Homo sapiens: one gene and its partners. The protein of the gene in region 4 purifies or fractionates together with the protein of the main gene of each other region. This does not show direct contact. Each region holds a gene or a part of one and is shown on either strand. Other genes may lie near its edges. The genes, in order: LEMD2, BEND3, CRTAP and SATB1.

Region 1 (3,500 bases), on a different chromosome or scaffold from region 4:
CAACATGAAAAGGTGAGTGTCATCATTCTTCTGTGTTAGCAGCTTCAGTGAGCGCTGCTGCTGAGGATAAAATCCGTATTCTCCTCCGCCTTTTCTAACACAGGAAAATTGCTCAGCTACTCAGGGCAGCTTTTTTTTTTTTTTAAGCCAACAAATTTTAATCGTGCCATGCATCCAGTTATCCAGCTTGAGGTGGAGCTGCCCGAGGGGCTTCTGCTGGATGCAGTGCTGATGGAATTAGTAATTTGGGTGGATTAGAGAGGAAAAGAACAAAACTCTAGAGACGTTTTAATATCAAGAGCTATAACCTGAACAGAGACCCCCACAAACACCGAGAGTGGGAAGTGGGGAAGTGATGCTGCTCTGCCAGCAGGGGACAGGTCTCTCAAGGCTGCCTGGCTGTTGGCTGACACGCCCCTCCCCCTGGGCTGAGCCGCCAGATACAGCCTTTCAGCCTCATGAAAGGGTTTGCTACCTTTTCTAACAGTGCTCACCAGTGATAAAAATGAGGCAGAAACTGCCTGGTCAGAATAAAATCCAGTATTTCCTTATGCGATTTCCATAGTAAGTAAAACCAACATACAGAAAGAATAATTTCATCTACAAATAAAAACTAGCTCCCGAGGAGGGGAAGTGCAGAAAAATGCCTTCCCCAACAAACCATGTGGTGTTGTTGATGAATGAGAAAGGCACAGACTGAGTTACCTGAGACAGGATTTAGCTGGAACACCAGGCTAACATCCTAACACCTGGATTTTGTGTCTCATCTTGAAGCTGCTCCTTACACTGCATTCCAAATGCTTCTTGCTTTTGTTGCCCCACTTCCATCCTAACCCACATGATTCTGCTGGGAGACCCAGCCTCCAGCTTCAGACCTGAGACAGCTCTGTTGGAGCACGGGTGTTAGCTGACGAGCGAGGACAGTGGTTGCAGGCACCCATGCTGCGTCGCCACCCTGCCCACACTCACCAGATGCCCACGTCCTTGTTACTGCTCAGTATCCAGGTCAGTGCGGCTTCAAACTTGGCGGAGGAGCTGCTGGTCACATTCTGTGGGAGGGCGCGGGAGAAGGTTAGTTCGGCGTCTGGGCGGAGCAGCTGGAACATTATTCTGCTGCTGGATTAAGGAAGCCCTCTCCCGTGTCCTCCACAGCCCCAAAACCCTGTTCTGCTAAAAGCACAGCAAAGTGGCAGGAAGGAAATCGGGGGTTGATGAAAGCCAAGGAAGAGGCTATAACCAGAGGAGGTGATGCGGAAGCACAAGCAGGAAAACAGTGCGGGTCTGAGGCGGCCAAAAGAATATGATTCTCTCGAGGATGGAAGCATCAGGCCAGAGAGCTGGCAGCTCATCTTAGGGTAAAGCGAATAACAGCGTTGTGGCTGGGGGTGGGTGAGCCCAGTGGCCGGTGCAAGTGGTCTGGCCTCAGGCAAGTCCCTGACCCTCTCCAGGCCTCAGTTTCTTCATCTGTGAAATGCAAATGGAACCAGATGACCCCTAAGTTACTGGACAGGCAGGCGACCTGGAATACCAGCTCCATAGTTCTATAATCTACCATCCTGAGGCCACACAGGAAATCAGACGGCCCCTGGGCAGTCTGAATGGTAATCATACGGGGGAGAAGGGACAGCATGTTTCTCCTGAAAGCCGAAGGCAAGACGAGCAAAGTGAACCAAGGGAGAAGCAGGTAACAGGCACACCTACAGTGCAGCAGTCAGGAGTGAGCCGCCCCACTGCACATGGCGGCCTGGCTCTGGGGCAGTCACTACCATGGCTGCCTTAACTGAAGGTAGTCTAGCACAAAAAGCCATAAACCAAACCTTAACTTAAGGTAGCCTAGTACAAAAGCCACAAAGCAAACAAAAAACAAAAACCCCAACAGGGCTTGAAAGACCAATAGGAAAGCACCAGGCCCTCCCAGGAATGTATAAGCACTGAAGCCTACTTACGGCTATATATTCTTGGGCTTCCATAACAGGAATGCATTTGCTTTTTAGATTCTCTGGATTTCCACACTCAAAATTACCTAGGAGAAAAAAAACCACACATGCTCAAACACAAAGGAAAAATCACTCTGAAACAGACTAAAAAATGCAGCAAGAATCAAGCCATCAGCTCTAATAAGGAGCATGTTGCCCAGCGGCTCCTGGCTTCTGTGGGGCATCTTCACTCTGCAGCAAGATCAAAAGCCACTTAGCTTGGATCGATTCCAGATCATTAAAACCTGACCTGCAAAGCAGTGTGGCATTTTGCATTAAATGACTAAAAAGCTGCCCAATAGCAAGGTCTCTTTGCAATTGATCCCTAAAAGAATCAGACAGATAGCTTCGGAAGGTACCGGAATGGCACTATAAATAAACACAGCCTGAGAAAAAAGAAAGGCAGGGAGGCCATGGGCACCACGGGGATTCTGACTCATGACACAGGCAGGCGACCTGGAATGCCAGGTCTATTGTCTTGAGGGGCCCCTTGGAGGAAGAGGATGTCTGTGTGCTGGGCAGTGGGGCCTCAGCACAGCACGCCAAGGGGCAGCTCCCCCGAGTGGCTTTGGAGGCCTGCTCCCATAGGATGGAGCTGGCAGCCTCCCACTTAGTCCTGCCCAACCTCCCCGGTCCAGCCCAGGGGCCATCTCCCCTGGGAAGCCCTCAGCCCCTGGGGGCCTTTTGTTTGATGAAATGGCCCCAGATTTGGTGACCTGCCATAGCCCTTGGTCCTCGCTCCTGTGCTGTGGTTTGCCTGACTCCCCGAGAGCAGGGAGGGTGCAGGGCCACGCACGCATACACTATTTAACACGTGTGCGTGGCCTGACTGCCCTGACCCAGCACAGCCTGGGGGACTTCGGGTGGCCAGTGAGTGTGTTTCTGCATGCTGGGGAAGGGAGCAGCTGAAGGTCATATTTTAAAACTTTGAAACTGAACTGAAGCCTGTCGCCTTCCCCTAACACAGCCAGATCCTCCTACTTCAAAGTTGATCTTGACCCCAGGGGTCCCCTGAGACACAGGTGGCTTCTAGCATCCTCCTTTTCCCACTAGGACTCTTCCTGCCCTTGCCAGGCCTGCCTGGACCACGTAGATGGCCTCTCGATTCGGTTCCTCCTCTCCCTTTCCCAATCCAGTTGTTTTGTCAATAACACTTGAAAATGATTCTGCTTAACTGTGCTACTCAAGCTGCTGCCGCATTCACCTTCCTGGCACCTGGCTCTCAGCATGATACTCCCTTGCTCAAAGCCTCTCTGGCCCTCACTGCCTGCCAGATCAAGCTCTGGTGGCCTGGCATCCAAGGCCATCTATGGTAGGGCCCAACCAACACTTCCAAACTTCATTCTCTCATCTTCCCCTTCCTCCATGAAGGTGCTGCTTCCCACTCGAGATGTAATTTCCTGCCGCTTTGCCTTGTCCTTCCCCACATACATGTAACCAGTCTTACCTGGGCTTCAGGGCCTGGCACAGATGCTACCTCCTGTGACGCTCTCCTGACTGCTCCAGCTAAAAGGCATTGTGCCT
Region 2 (4,778 bases), on a different chromosome or scaffold from region 4:
TGTTTGGATCTGCCCTAACATCCAACAGGGGAGAGTTAAAACAAACCAATTAAACAAAGAGTTGGCTGTGCACTATGGCTCACGCCTGTAATCCCAGCACTTTGGGAGGCCAAGTCAGGAGGATCACTTGAGGCCAGGAGTTCAAGACCAGCCTGGGCAACATAGTGAGATCCAGTCTCTATTTAAATAAGTGAATGATAGATTTAATTTAGGAAAAGACCTGACCTCCAGCTAATGCCCCACTTTTGCAAGAATCAGCTACTATGTCAAGTGTGGTAGGCTTACGTTAACCGTCCTCACTATCAGCAAGCTCCTGCTTTCCCCCACAAAGCACAGCAAAATAACGCAAAAGCAGCTGCAATGTGAAGGCTCCCTTTACCCACCAGGAATCCCAACACAAACAAGAATTCCAGTTAAAGACAGACACTTTCGAGAAACTGAAGCCAGAGATGGGATAGCTTAAATGAAACCTTCCCATGCCCAAGGGTTCAGCAGTTGCCAGGATGCCCAAAACAAGAGGGAGATTCAGCATGGAATCAGAGAGGGTTAGAGCCCAAGCAAAGAGTGACAGCAGCTAGGCCCTCACCTCGGGGATCAGCCGCCTCCTCTTCACGCCGGGGACAGAGTCTAGCAGGCCATCGCTGACCAGCTGCTTTCGTTTGCTGGAGTCCTGCAGGGCAGTGAGGACGCTGTCCACAGAGTGCTTCTCAGAAGTCCTGGAATTCACGGAGCAGTCCAGAGCAGCATCTTCAGCCTCTGTCTCCACTTTCACAGTGATACTTTTTAGAACTGTGTCAGAGAAGAAATAGGGCTCAGTGGGAAAAACCAGGGCTGCTCAGAGATCAGCAGGGTTCTCTGAGCAGCAGGGTGTCTGTGGGCCGCCCTTTGACACCAGTGCTGAGATAATGATGTCTAGTTGTAACAAACCTGAGCTTTCCAACGATGCAATCTTTATCTCACCGCACTAGTGCTGTACAATAAAGCCATGTTCCAAGAGCATTTAGTTCAAATTGGTTTAAACATCTTTTTTTGGGGGGGAAGACAGTGGAAGGAGAGACATAAAATATTATCTTTTTGTGCTTTAAAAAAGTAATTTTTAAAAAGTGACACAAGGTGCTTATAACAAGTGTGTGGGTGGAGGGGGATGGGAACCGGGGAACAAGTGTGTGGGTGGAGGGGACTTTTCACTATATAACTTTGTATATTTTTGGACCATGTGAATGTATGACCTGATCAAAAGTATTCAGTTAAAAACATTTTTCAAAAAGGGCATTTTTTTTTTACCTTCTTCTACATCTTCGGTGAATTCAGTTGAGTTCATCTTCTATTCCGCTAAATAAAAAGACAAAGACAATGTGTTGACTTATTGCTTGATTTATTTCTTAATTTTCTCTACCCACAGAAAATCCTCTTACCCTCCCAACCCCAGCTCTAGGTAACAGAGCAGCACAGCACTGTGGAAGCTATGTGTCCTCCTAATCTTGTCTGCAGACACTCAGGAGCAGCCAGGCCTTGTGCATCCCTGCTGGGAGCTCTTCTCCAAGACTTTATGTGAGCAGAATGTGTCTTACAGCATCCACTGATAGCCACTTACTGAGCCATGGGAACATTACAAGAACAAATCAACTCTTAAAAAAGACCCCAATTTTAATTATCTCTTTTAAGTCCATGCTTATAAATTCCAGCCACAAAACAAATAGGCTGAAGGATGGGGGCCATGGATCCTGAAATCTTAGGACTTACGGTTGTCAAGAGAACTGTGCTGCCCATGACCTGAAGGTGGCTACTAGCCACACCTGGCTACCAAGGACTCAAAATGTGGCTAGTCCAATGGAGATGTGCTATAAGTGTAAAATACACACCAAATCTCAGACTTAGTAACAGAAATGCAAAATATCTCACTAGTAATTTTTTTTTTTTTAGAGGAAAGGTCTCACTCTTTTCACCCTGGCTGGAGTACAGTAGCACTATCATGGCTCATTGCAGCCTCTGATTCCTGGGCTCTAGCAATCCTCCTGCCTCAGCCTCTAGAATGGCTAGGACTACAGGTACCACATGCCGCCACCCACAGCTAATTAAAAAATTTTTTTGTAGAGATGCGGTTTCACTATGTTGACCAGGCTGCTCTTGAACTCCTCAAGCGATCCTTCCACCTTGGCCTCCCAAAGTGCTGGGATTACACATCTGAGCCACAGTGCCCAGTCCTAATAATTGCTTTATATTGATTACATGTTGAAATGATAATATTTTGGACTTACTGGGCTAAATACAATACTTTATTTCATTTATTTGTTTATGAAACGGAATCTTGCTTTGTCACCAGGCTGGAGTGCAGTGGCGCAATCTTGGCTCACTGCAACCTCCGCCTCCTGGGTTCAAGTGATTCTCCTGCCTCTGCCTCCAAGTGATTCTCCTGCCTCTGCCTCCCGAGTAGCTGGGACTACAGGCATAAGCCACCACTCCCGGCTAATTTTTTGTATTTTTAGTAGAGACAGGGTTTCATCGTGTTAGCCAGGATGGTCTCGATCTCCTGACCTCATGATCCGCCCACCTCAGCCTCCCAAAGTGCTGGGATTAGAGGTGTGAGCCATTGTGCCCAGCCTAAGCTTCATTAGAAAGGTGGGCAGTGCTCTGTTCCAGGCTGCAGGGTCTGAAGCAAAACCTGCCTGCCTCAGCTGGAATGGAACTGACACCATGAGGCAAAGCACCACTAAAACAAAACAAACAAAATTACCACTAAGTCTCTGATATCTCCGAATACCATGACAGCATGTACATAAATAGTACAAGATACAAAGGTAGTAACATTTGGAGAATATACATTGCAATCTTTAATGTTGACACTTGGGAGTTGTGATCCCCACAACTGATTAAGCTGACTACAAACACAGAGTTCTCATTTTGGTTGAGGATGAGTGGAGAGCAGGACCAAGAAGTATCTCTTAAGAAATTTCTGGCCGGGAATGGTGGCTCGTGCCTGTAATCCCAGCACTTTGGGAGGCTGGGGTGGGCGAATCACCTGGGGTCAGAAGTTCAACACCAGCCTGGCCAACATGGTGAAACCCCATCTGTACTAAAAATACAAAAATTAGCTGGGCATGGTGGCACACGCCTATAGTCCCAGCTACTTGGGAGACTGAGGCAGGAGAACTGCTTGAACCCGGGAGGCAGAGGTTGCAGTGAGCCAAGATCACACCACTATACCCCAGCCTGGGTGACAGAGTGAGACTCTGTCTCAAAAAAAAAGAAAGAAACTCTGTAAGCATGAAGCCATCTAAAATGTTCAGTGAACCATTCAAGGAGTAGCCACAGAATGGTGTGTGTTTGACATACAGTACCTGTTTTAGACAGGTGAATGGGGTGGGGATGGCAGCAAGAGGGAGAGTGTGTCTGGGTGATCCATGAGCACAATCATCACTGCAAAGGTTACTAATAATGGCAACACATACAGTGCTTATGATGTGAAGCACTATTTTTAGTTCAAGAACAGTGCACAATAGTGCAAGACAGGCACAATTCTTTTCATCCCTGTATTGCTAATTTTCAGAGGAATGAAAACCAAAATGAGATTTGAAACTGAAAATAATTCCTACTCACCAAGCCATCTCCTACCTGAAAAAACATTACACACAGGGTGATATTGACAGAAAACAAATAATAAGTCAACTTCAAGGGTCCGAGAACTATTTTACCAGAGTCAAATTTTAGCAACTCCTTCCACTGTATTTCAAGGAACTACACCTCACTTTGGATCGCCATCATCTGAGCTGGGTGTCTCTGAGTGGCTAGAAGGGCTGGACAATGCCAGGCAGAAATTCAAGACCGGATTCCCAGCCTGGTAGGAGGCCTCTCAAGGAAACACACTGCAGGTCACCTGAATGCCCCTGCCCTTGGAAACTGCCATGGTCACATAACCCATTCCTGCCAATCAAGGGGAGTTCTGAGATGCAGAACAGATGGGGCAAAACGATGGCTGTCAGAGGCGGACATACTTTACAAAACAAATTACATTTGGCAGAGAAAAGGCAGAGAGGGAGGAGACAGCGGTTGGTTTATTTGGGGAGGAAAAGGGTCATGGTGAAAGAAAAATTGCAAAGAGTCAAAGATTCTGGTAAGTGGAAAGCACTAAAAGGATGGGCAAATACTAGAACAAAACAAAACAGGCGTCGATGAGAGAACACAGCAGACAGGGCCATGGGTGGTGAGAAGGGCAGTCTATTTATCTGCCATTATATTCGCCCAACCATGTGTCTCTGGCAGGCCCATCACATAGGGAGCAGTGCAGGGCTGGAGTCCAGGCTGCCACATGGAGCCTGCCGGGAATGTGGCTTGGTGAGCAGAAAACCTATTTTCTGATTTTTTATTTTTCCTTGTTTCCAGTGGGGTTGGAAGGAGGCTATTTTCTGAACCACCACCATGTGACCCTACAGCAGGCAATTTGGCCTCTGAATTTTGAGCCCCTATAAAGTGATGAAGGAAGAGCACACATCTCAGCCACCTGCAGTGGGCAGAAACCCCAGAGGGCTCATGCAGCTGAGGTGGGAGGAAGGGGTGCTGGTGCGGCTGCCTGGGCATTCAAGACACCGAGTGCTTGTGCTTTGGAAAACACTTCCGTGTCCATTTATAGACTAGTGACAGATGCTAGGTTAGCCCAGAAGTAGCCCAGAACACAGCATGGTGGGCCCCTTCCCTCCGGGCCAGCAAATCAGCTTCACTCATTAAGAAGCTGGGGAATCTCCCATTTGCAAGGCCTGGAAACCTCGCGCCTGCCCCTGGCT
Region 3 (4,778 bases), about 15 Mb from region 4:
TTTTAGACAGTGTCTCACTGTGCCACCCAGGCTACAGTACAGTGGTGTGATCTCGGCTCACTGCAACCTCCACCTCCTGGGTACAAGCGATTCTCTTGCCTCAGCCTCCTGAGTAGCTGGGATTACAGGCATGTGCCACCACGCCCAGCTAATTTTTTTGTATTTTTAGTAAAGCAAGATTTCGACCGATTGGCCAGGCTGGTCTCAAACTCCCGACCTCAGGTGATCTGCCCACCTCAGCCTCCCAAAGTGCTGGGATTACAGGTGTGAGCCACCACACCCAGCCTAATTTTTTTATTTTTTGTAGAGATGGGGTCTTGCTATGTTGCCCAGGCTGGTCTCAAACTCCTGGGTTCAAGTGATCCTCCTGCCTCAGCCTCCCAAAGTGCTGGGATTAGAGGAATGAGCCCCTGTGCCAGGCCCACTCTCTCTGCTTCTATTCAACATAGTACTAGAAGTTTTAACTAGAACAATTACGCAAGAAAAATAATACACATACACATACAAACTAATAAATAAGTTCAGCAAGTTTGCAGAATCAATACACAAAATCTATTGTATTTCTATTCTTTTAGAATATGCCCAAAAGTGAAAATAAGAAAACAATTTCATTTATAATAGCATCAAAAAGAATAAAATGCTTGAATACTAGGGGTTGGAAAGAATTTATTTTAATTTTTTAAAAAAGAATAGAATGTTTAGGAATAATAAAATAAGAAAACACTGTGAAATAAATTTTTAAAAAATCCAAATAAGTGGAAAGACTTCTCATGTTCATGGATTAGAAGACAATATTAAGAAGCCAATACTCCCCAAAGAGATTTATGTGTTCAGTGGAATTCCTATAAAAAAATCCCAGCTGCCTTTTGCAAAAACTGAAAAGCTAAACCTATAATTCATATGGAAATGTACAGGACCCAAAATAGCCAAAATCATCTTGGAAAAGAAGAACAACGTTGGAGGACTCACAATTCAAATTTCAAAATATAGTATAAAGCTACAGTAATCTAATCTTGGTTGAAAGTCCACGTAATTTAAAAAAAAAAAGCTATATTAATGAAGACAGTGTAGTACTAACTTTAAGGATAGAAATCAAGATGAGTGGTATAGACTGAGAGTCTGGAAAATTAACTCTCACATTTATGGTCAACTGATTTCTTTCAAAGGGTACCAAGACAATTCAATGGTGAAAAAGTCTTTTCAACAAATAGTGCTGTAACAACTGGCTATTCACATGCAAGAGAATGAAACTAGACCTCTTCCTAATATCACACATAAAATTAACTCAAATGGGTTGTAAATTTAAATGCAGGAGTTAAAATTACAAAAATCGTAGGAGTAAAAATCAGGAGTAAATCTTTGTGACCTTGGATTAGGCAATGGTTTCTTAGATATGACACACAACACAAAAGCAACAAAAGAAAGAACAGATAAATTGAATTTCATCAAATTTGAAAACTTGTGCTTCAAGACACCATTTAGCAACTGAAAAGACAACCCACAAATTGTGAGAAAATATCTACAATTCATATATCTGATAAGGAACTTATAACTAGAATATCTAAAGAACTTCTACAACACAATAATAAAAAGATAAGTAACAATTTTAAAGTGGACAAAAGATTTGAATAGACATTTCTTCAAAGATATACAAATGGCCAATCATGAAGGGATGCTCAACATAGTCACTAAGAAGGTGCAAGTCAAGCTGGGTGCAGTAGCTCACGCCTGTAATCCCAGCATTTTGGGAGGCTGAGGCGGGTGGATCGCCTGAGGTCAGGAGTTTGAGACCAGCCTGGCCAACATAGTGAAACTCCATCTCAACTAACAATACAAAAAATTAGCTGGGTGTGGTGGTGCGCGCCTGTAATCCCAGCTACTAGGATGGCTGAGGCAGGGAATCACTTGAACCTGGGAGGCGGAGGTTGCAGTGAGCCGAGATCGCACCATTGCACTCCAGCCTGGGCAACAAGAGCAAAACTCTGTCTCAAAAAGAAAAGAAAAACAACAGAAAGTGGAAGTCAGAACCACAATGAAATACTACTTGCATCCACTAGCATGGCTATTAAAAAAAAAAGACAATATTAAGTTTTGTTGAAGATATTGCAAAGTTGGAACTCTCATACACTGCTGATGGGAATGTAAATGGTGCAGCCACTTTGAAAAACAGTCTGGCAGTTTCTCAACAGGTTAAACCATTACCATATGGCCCAGCAATCCATTCCTAGGTATGTACCTGATATGGTTTGGATATATGTCCCCTCCAAATCTCATGTTGAAATGTAATCTCCGGTGTTGGAAGTGGGGCCTGGTGGAAGGTATTTGGGTCAGGTGGGCGGATGCCTCAAAAATGTCTTGGTGCTGTCCTCATGATAATAAGTGAGTTCTCACTCTGAGTTCACACAAGATCTAGTTGTTTAAAAGAGTGTGGCATGCTCTTGCCATGTGACATACGCCAGCTCCCCCTTTGCCATGACCATAAGCTTCCTGAGACCTCACCAGAAGCCAAGCAGATGCCATTGCCACACTTCCTGTGCCACCATGCCCAGCTAACTTTTAAATTTTCTGTAGAGACAGAGTCTCACTATGTTACTCAGGCTAGTCTTGGGCTCAAGCAATCCTCCTGCCTTGGCCTCCCAAAGTGCTGGGATTACAGGCATGAACCACTGCACCCAGCCAGGTATTTCTTTACAGTGATGCAAAAATGGCCTAACATAATACCTATGTATATACTCCTAGGTATAAAAAACTGGAAAGCTTATGTTCAAACAAAAATTTGTACACAAATGGTCATAGCATCATTATTCAAAATAGCCAAAAAGTGGAACCAACCCAAACATCCATCAACTGAAGAATGGATAAACAGAATGCGGTACATCCAAAAGAAGAATATTACTTGGTAGTACAGAGGAAATTTTACAGGCAACATGTTCAACATGGCTGAACTTTGAAAACATATGCTCAGTGAAAGAAGCCAGTCACAAAAGACCACATACCCTATATTTCCATTTATATGAAATGTCCACAACAGGCAAATCCACAGAAACAGAAAGTAGATTAGAGTCTTCCAGGGGCTGGAGGTGGAGGCAGGAGTGGGAATGTTGGCCCAGAGGAGAAATGGGAAGTGACTTAGCTATGGAGTTTCTTTTGGGGGCAATAAAAATGTTCTAAAGTTAAATAACAGTGATGGATGCAAAATTTTGTGGATATAACAAGTACAACTGAATTGTATACTTTAAAAAGGAGAATTTCATTTTTTGTGAATAATATCTAAATAAAGCTGTTTTAGAAAAATATAACAAGAGAAACTGCTCACATAATAATATAAAGTGAAAAAGTCATGAGACATAATTATAGCTGAGTTTATAATAAATATGTAGAAAAACAAATTTAAAACTATAAAATTTTTTCTTTAATAATAAAAAAATGGAAAGATATATACCAAAATATCCATATTAGCTTGCCTCTAGATAACTGGGAACTCAACTTCTCTTACCTTTTCTAAATATATTTTTCTATACTTTCCTTTTTTTTTTTTTTGAGGCAGGGTCTTACTCCAATTGCCGAGTCTGGAGTGCAATGGCGCAATATCAGCCTCAAACTCCCCAGACTCCTTCAGCCTTCCAAGTAGCTAGGACTACGGGTGCACTCCACCATACCCAGCTAATTTTTTTGTATTTTTTGTAGAGACGAGGTTTTACCATGTTGCCCAGGCTGGTCTTGAACTCCTGGTCTCAAGCAATCACCTGCTTTGGCCTCCCAAATGCTGAGATCACAGGTGTGAGCCACTACACCCAGCCTCTGCTATACTTTGTAAACCACAGTGGCCAATCTTGTTGGTATCTGGCTGGTGTTCCTTCCTTTAGGGAATGGGGGAATGGCCCCTGTGGCATCTTGGGATCCTGTCTCAGGCTCTGCTTCAAGGATACCCAAACCAAGACATAGGCATTGCATCACTTTCCAGTTTAGAAAGCATTTCCACATGCAACACAGTATTTTATTCTCACAACCCTGGGAGGGCAGTATTATTATTCCCATTTTATAGATAAAGAACTGAGACTCAGTTGTTTAATGCCAGTGATGAGTTCATCCCATACATATTTATAGACAGAAAACAAATTCCACGAAGATGTCTTATTCAGAGGTACTTCACCTAAAACGGGTATAGGAAGAGCAGACCTGGAGGCTCAGGAAACTTGCTGGCCCCATGCTCCTCATCTATAAAGCGAAGGATCAGACCAGAGCAAGCTCACAGCTCTCTTCGAGCTCCAATAGCTGACAAGTCCCCAGCTTTCTCAGTAAGCATTTTCCAGTTTGTTCCAAACAAATACTCTAAATACTACCGCTAATGATGGCTTTTCTGTGACCAGACTCATCACAAAATGACCACTCCATAACCAGTTGAGTCAGGGTCAGAAAAGGGGTCAGCTGAGTAAGGTGGAATCAGGAATTTCAAGCAATTCTAGAGAATGACAAAATGCTTACAGTAAAGATGCAATTTAGAAAAAATAATAATAGCAATAGTCTAGCAGAAAAATTGGGGTGTGAGTATCCATGTCTCTTCAGAGTGCTGAGCAATTAAAAATTCACTGTTTTTATATAAAGTGAAAAGATGAAGAATGACCACTGTGAATTCCTGGAGTGTGGCCCCACACCCGTTTCGCTATCAGGAAATGTGGCACTCCTGCCTAGGTTTCCTAGAAAGCCGCTCTTTCCCATGCCAGCATTCTGACTGTCACTGAAACACCCACAGGAACTGTCTTTCTCAAGGTCCCCTC
Region 4 (4,778 bases):
ACCACCTCGACTCTTTCTTAAATAAGGGCATTCAGGAGAATTTAGCCATCATGCTAATAGCACTCAGAAGACAAATCTAAAAATTAGCCAGCGGAGTCTTCCACTGAACTGTTTTTCCTGTAAACAGTCCTTTGCCTCTTTTCCCCAAGGGAGAAAAAGCCTATAGGCTCTGTTCACAAGGAATCAGGCATATTTTAAAAGGTCACCAGTGGTCAAGTCACTTTGCATTTTTGGCAGATTCTTGCTTCAGATACCAGTTGCTTTAAACCAGGGAGCTCCATCAAACCTCAAATCAGGGTTGCCCATGATGTCTTATTATTTATTACATTCTATGCTAAGTACCTGTGAAAGGGGGCACTCCTTGGCCAATGAACTCTGATTCATATCTTTCAGTAAGTCCTTCAGAGCATTCCTCACTGTGGTGTGCGACCATTGTTCGGGAGGCAAGTCTTCTAGTTTGGGGCAACTATTTGAGACATAGATTAGAAAGGGGATTATTACAAGATTGCATCCCGCTGCAGAACATTCCTTTAAGACAGACAGATTTCATTTTGCGCATCAAACAGATGCATCTGGAGATTGCTCTCGGTCTCCTGATTGTTCCGATTAGTTAATTACTTTATACAACACATCTGCTGTATCGATGCATGAATTATACATCAGCTGCCTGTGGTGGCTATTTTTTCATGTTACTTCTACCTTCCTGCTCTGATGCGCTTGGGAAGACAATTTAAGGTGTACTGCTTTCTCCTGAGCCATCATGAAAAGCTTTAATGTATTAACCGATTTCCTTTCATTACTCTGTTCATATGAATTAAAAATCATAAAAAAATAAATAAATAAATAAGACTGTGGTAATAGTGAATAAGACAGTCTTTCACAAAATGTACACAGATGGCACTGTTCATGATATGCAAAAATATTTTTTTCTTAAGTAAACTTTATGTAAAATGCCTTCTTGTGATGCATTATTTAATTGACTAAACGTAAAAAGTCTTGTCTTTTGATAACCTGCACAAACCTACACATTTTTTGTGTGTGTGGGGGGGGGGATTGCTTTTAAATTATACATTGAAGTTAGGAAAAAAGGCAGAAGGATAGGGTAACAAAATCGATCTGTATTAACCTTTCTGAAACACAGACTAAAAAAAAATTGAAGGTCGACCAGAGAGAAATGCTTCATTTCAAAAGACCAGGTAAGAAGAATGTTTCACCCTAGATTTGCTGTCTTGACTCACCTGTGTAACTGAATTTTCAATGTGACCACATGATACACATCTTGAAGCATATCTGCTACTGTAGCATCAGGGGCATCTGTCACGTAAGACAGTGGAACTGGATTCCACTTTCCAACCTGGATTAGCCCTATTTCAGATAAAGAGAATATGTCACTAAATATTTTACCCTCAGATAATATATCTACTAGAAGGGTGTTCTTTTCTTTTCTACTACCCCTACCACAAGCAGTACCGTTATTTCTGTTTGAATGATTCCCTTCCCTCTAAAAGGCAGGTCAATGAAAATATTCACAGCTTAGCTTTCCAAATTGTAAAATTATGTAAATGACTGTAGGGTTGTTTATTATTTTGGAAATAAAACCCCATCAATAAAACCTATGCATAAGGCCACATTTTCCTAACTTACAGGAAGTTCTAATAAGACATAGCCGAACCAGTTCTAAATGGCTTTATGATTTAGATAAGATTCTCTATTGCAGTGGGAATCAGCATTGAAAAATACTTTGCAGCCCATAAAACCATCAGAAACAGAATAAAAGAAACAGAACTAGATATTCAGTCATAAATGCAAATTGACTCTCAACAGTCCATCTGCTCAAATACGCTCCTCACTTCCTTGTGGGTCCTCAGTGGAGCAGATTATTAAGGTCAATAAGCATACTAATGATTCAGCTGAAGTAATTTAAAAAAAAAATCTACCTCGACATTCCACATGAGCAAAATGTGTGTTAACTAAACCAAACTGAATTAAGCCAATTTTTTAAAGCCACAGCCTATAAGGAACCAATGTAATACACAGGCTACAGTTCTTTGAATAAAAATATTCAGTGCTTTCTCTGCAAGGTAAACAAAGAATGCTAAGCAATTTTTCCAACCCCACGTACACATTATTTACCTTTGGCCTGGGCAGCAGAGCTATGTGAATAACCTAGAGACAGCAATGCCATTTCGATCAGCTGGTTGAAAAGCATATCCTTTCTCACCAGCACAAATTCTGCATGCTCCTCCTTGCAATCATATTCAATGGCGTTTTCATAATGTTCCACCACACAGAAAACTGGCAGCATGGTTCCTATCAAAAAGATGAAGAAGAAGAGATGGAAAACCAACAATCTTCAGAAATACAGCTTGGGGGTGGCGGGAGGAAATATTAGCCATGAAAATAAATAATCACAAGAGATTCACTGTGCTTCCAAGGCAGACTGGGTACAGTACAGGCAAATGCACACAAATATATACATTCTCATATTATTTAAAGTCGTAACAGAAATATTTAAGTAGAATATGAACTTGGTCCTAAGGTAAGCTGTGCTCTAAATTAACAGTGCATTTTCCAAAAGCAATGAATGCAGAATTACCTTTCTGATCAAATAATAATGGTGACGAAAGAGAAATAAATGTATCTTCTCTAATTTGCTATGAGTAGTATACAGTATGCAAACATAACTCACCATTTATCTTCAGAAGAACCCACCTTTCTACTGCTTACATGATTTTGTTAATAATAAACTTTTCCTGGGTTTGTGTCCAAACAAATTATCTTCGACCACGAAATTTTCATTTTCTTCCTTTTTTAGATATTAACTCTAACTGGTTCCACAAATCATTTTCTTCCTTTTTTAGATATTAGCTCTAACTGGTTCCACAAAAAGTACTTAACCAAACTGGTGCTCATAATACACAATTTCAATATCTGCATAATGTAGAAAAATAACATTTGCTTTTATGAATACTCATTTAACCTACCTAACTAAAAAGAGAGCACGGTACCCATAAGTCTTTAAAATCAACAATCTTTGTTACAGTAAATAAGGTAAAAATGAGAGATAGAAAAGGAAACTGACATACTAGGATAAAGGAATCTGCATAGATTTGGTGTGCTCTCTCTTTATATATTTTAATCCAATACAGTAACTCAGTAGCTAGATGATTAATAAGCACCGGCCACACTACTATTAGAAAGAGGCTTCTTCTAGAAATTGATATTACGGAATGCTGTGGTACTCAAGGTGTTTATGCAGCGCACTGTCAGACTTCCAATGATAACGGAAAAGGGTTAAAAGCAGATGCATCTGAATTGTACTGTGGCAAACTGCCAGAAGGGTATCATCTTTAGCATAAATGATGACAAGGGTTACTTTAACAGGGCACCCAGGATCCACAATTAGTCCTACAATACTAATGCCTCTATAAGCTCTGTCCTCTGGACTCACAGAATCCTACCAACTTCTGAAGATGACTTAGTGCACACCAACCGTAGCTAAAAATCAGGATTTCCTACTGACACCAGAGAGGCCCTTCAAAGATTCTCTATTTGCTTGTTTCTGCTGAACAAAAGCCGGCAATAAAACAGCTACATCTTTCTACATGTGAGTCTTCACCAAAGCTTTAGTGAACTGTTCACAAGAGATTCTAGGTCTGACAAAACCCTTTAGGTTTACTTAGAAAAACTCACAAACTCATTCGGAGGTACCAATAGGCTAGGCATGAAAAACAAGCCGCAGAGCTTGCCAATATTTTTGTCATTCATTCAGCTGTTTTATACCAGAGAAAGAACCCGTCGGGGATCAGAAGACAACTTGGGGAGACCACAGCAAAAATAGCAATATGCAAACTGGCGATTCCTTCCTTGGCTTGAAGGTATTCTGGCAAAATCGCCTAAACAAATAAAACCATTCAATCCCTTTTTCTTAGTAGTGTTTTCTCATCTCAGCCATAATTTTCATTTAGCACCTATCAGACAGAAACCATGCACATGAAAAATAAGATGAAAATGTTAATAAAAACCCACAAAAAGACTTTAGTAATTTTGTTATTTGGAGTATCTGAGACCCTCCTACAATTAAACTGCATTTTTAGAATACATCCAAAACAAAACAAAACAAAACCAAAAAGCATTTGAGCAGGAAGTGAATTTACTGTACTTTTAGTTTTCCTCCTCCTGTCCTGATATCTTCAAAGAGTTGGGTAAGTACAACAAAAATGTACACATTCATTTTTCCTTTTGTAGGATGAATCAGATGTATTCTACAATATGCTTTTCCTTAGATCTATGAAATAACTGCAGGGTTTTCAAACTATTGAAATATATTGGATTTATTGTGGATTTTATTGATCATGTTTAGAGGTACCCTAAAATAATAAAGACGGCTATAAAGTGACAATAGTACTATCTAATTACAGACCTTCTAGCAAACTGTTGCGGTTACCCTCCCGTTTCTGGGAGTAATGCTGAACACAAGCCTTTTCTGAACTGTATGATTATTCGTGCTAGTGTTTGGCGAGAGTTCCAACTACAGCAACTTCATAACCTTCCAGCATTTAAAGGGGAGAGCACTGGTCACTGCTGAATGCTAAAAATACCACATGATTTAAACCTGAAGGCAGTCTTAGAAGCTTTTGCTGAAGGTTTATGAGCCTGTGTAAACAGCACGTCTGCCATAAGGAGCAGTGAAGTCTGTAGAATCCTTGTCTAAAACTGTCCTGGCATTAAAGTTTGCTGTGCAAATATCACATAATACCAGAGACAGCTGAAATCTC

Evidence for each region.
Region 1: the proteins of SATB1 (region 4) and LEMD2 purify together in Homo sapiens (affinity purification with mass spectrometry, with the first as the bait; one large-scale study listed by BioGRID). This does not show direct contact.
Region 2: the proteins of SATB1 (region 4) and BEND3 purify together in Homo sapiens (affinity purification with mass spectrometry, with the first as the bait; one large-scale study listed by BioGRID). This does not show direct contact.
Region 3: the proteins of SATB1 (region 4) and CRTAP purify together in Homo sapiens (affinity purification with mass spectrometry, with the first as the bait; one large-scale study listed by BioGRID). This does not show direct contact.

What each region holds. Positions count from the first base shown.
Region 1 is NC_000006.12:33,779,131-33,782,630, forward strand, and holds part of LEMD2 (LEM domain-containing protein 2), read right to left. Parts: intron 2,024-3,500; coding exon 1,947-2,023; intron 1,050-1,946; coding exon 970-1,049; intron 1-969. UniProt on the Homo sapiens protein: Nuclear lamina-associated inner nuclear membrane protein that is involved in nuclear structure organization, maintenance of nuclear envelope (NE) integrity and NE reformation after mitosis.
Region 2 is NC_000006.12:107,097,965-107,102,742, forward strand, and holds part of BEND3 (BEN domain-containing protein 3), read right to left. Parts: intron 1,333-4,778; 5' UTR 1,322-1,332; coding exon 1,285-1,321; intron 790-1,284; coding exon 587-789; intron 1-586. UniProt on the Homo sapiens protein: Transcriptional repressor which associates with the NoRC (nucleolar remodeling complex) complex and plays a key role in repressing rDNA transcription.
Region 3 is NC_000003.12:33,134,369-33,139,146, reverse strand, and holds part of CRTAP (cartilage-associated protein isoform 1 precursor), read right to left. Parts: intron 1-4,778. UniProt on the Homo sapiens protein: Necessary for efficient 3-hydroxylation of fibrillar collagen prolyl residues.
Region 4 is NC_000003.12:18,414,769-18,419,546, forward strand, and holds part of SATB1 (DNA-binding protein SATB1), read right to left. Parts: intron 2,311-4,778; coding exon 2,134-2,310; intron 1,366-2,133; coding exon 1,239-1,365; intron 467-1,238; coding exon 343-466; intron 1-342. UniProt on the Homo sapiens protein: Crucial silencing factor contributing to the initiation of X inactivation mediated by Xist RNA that occurs during embryogenesis and in lymphoma.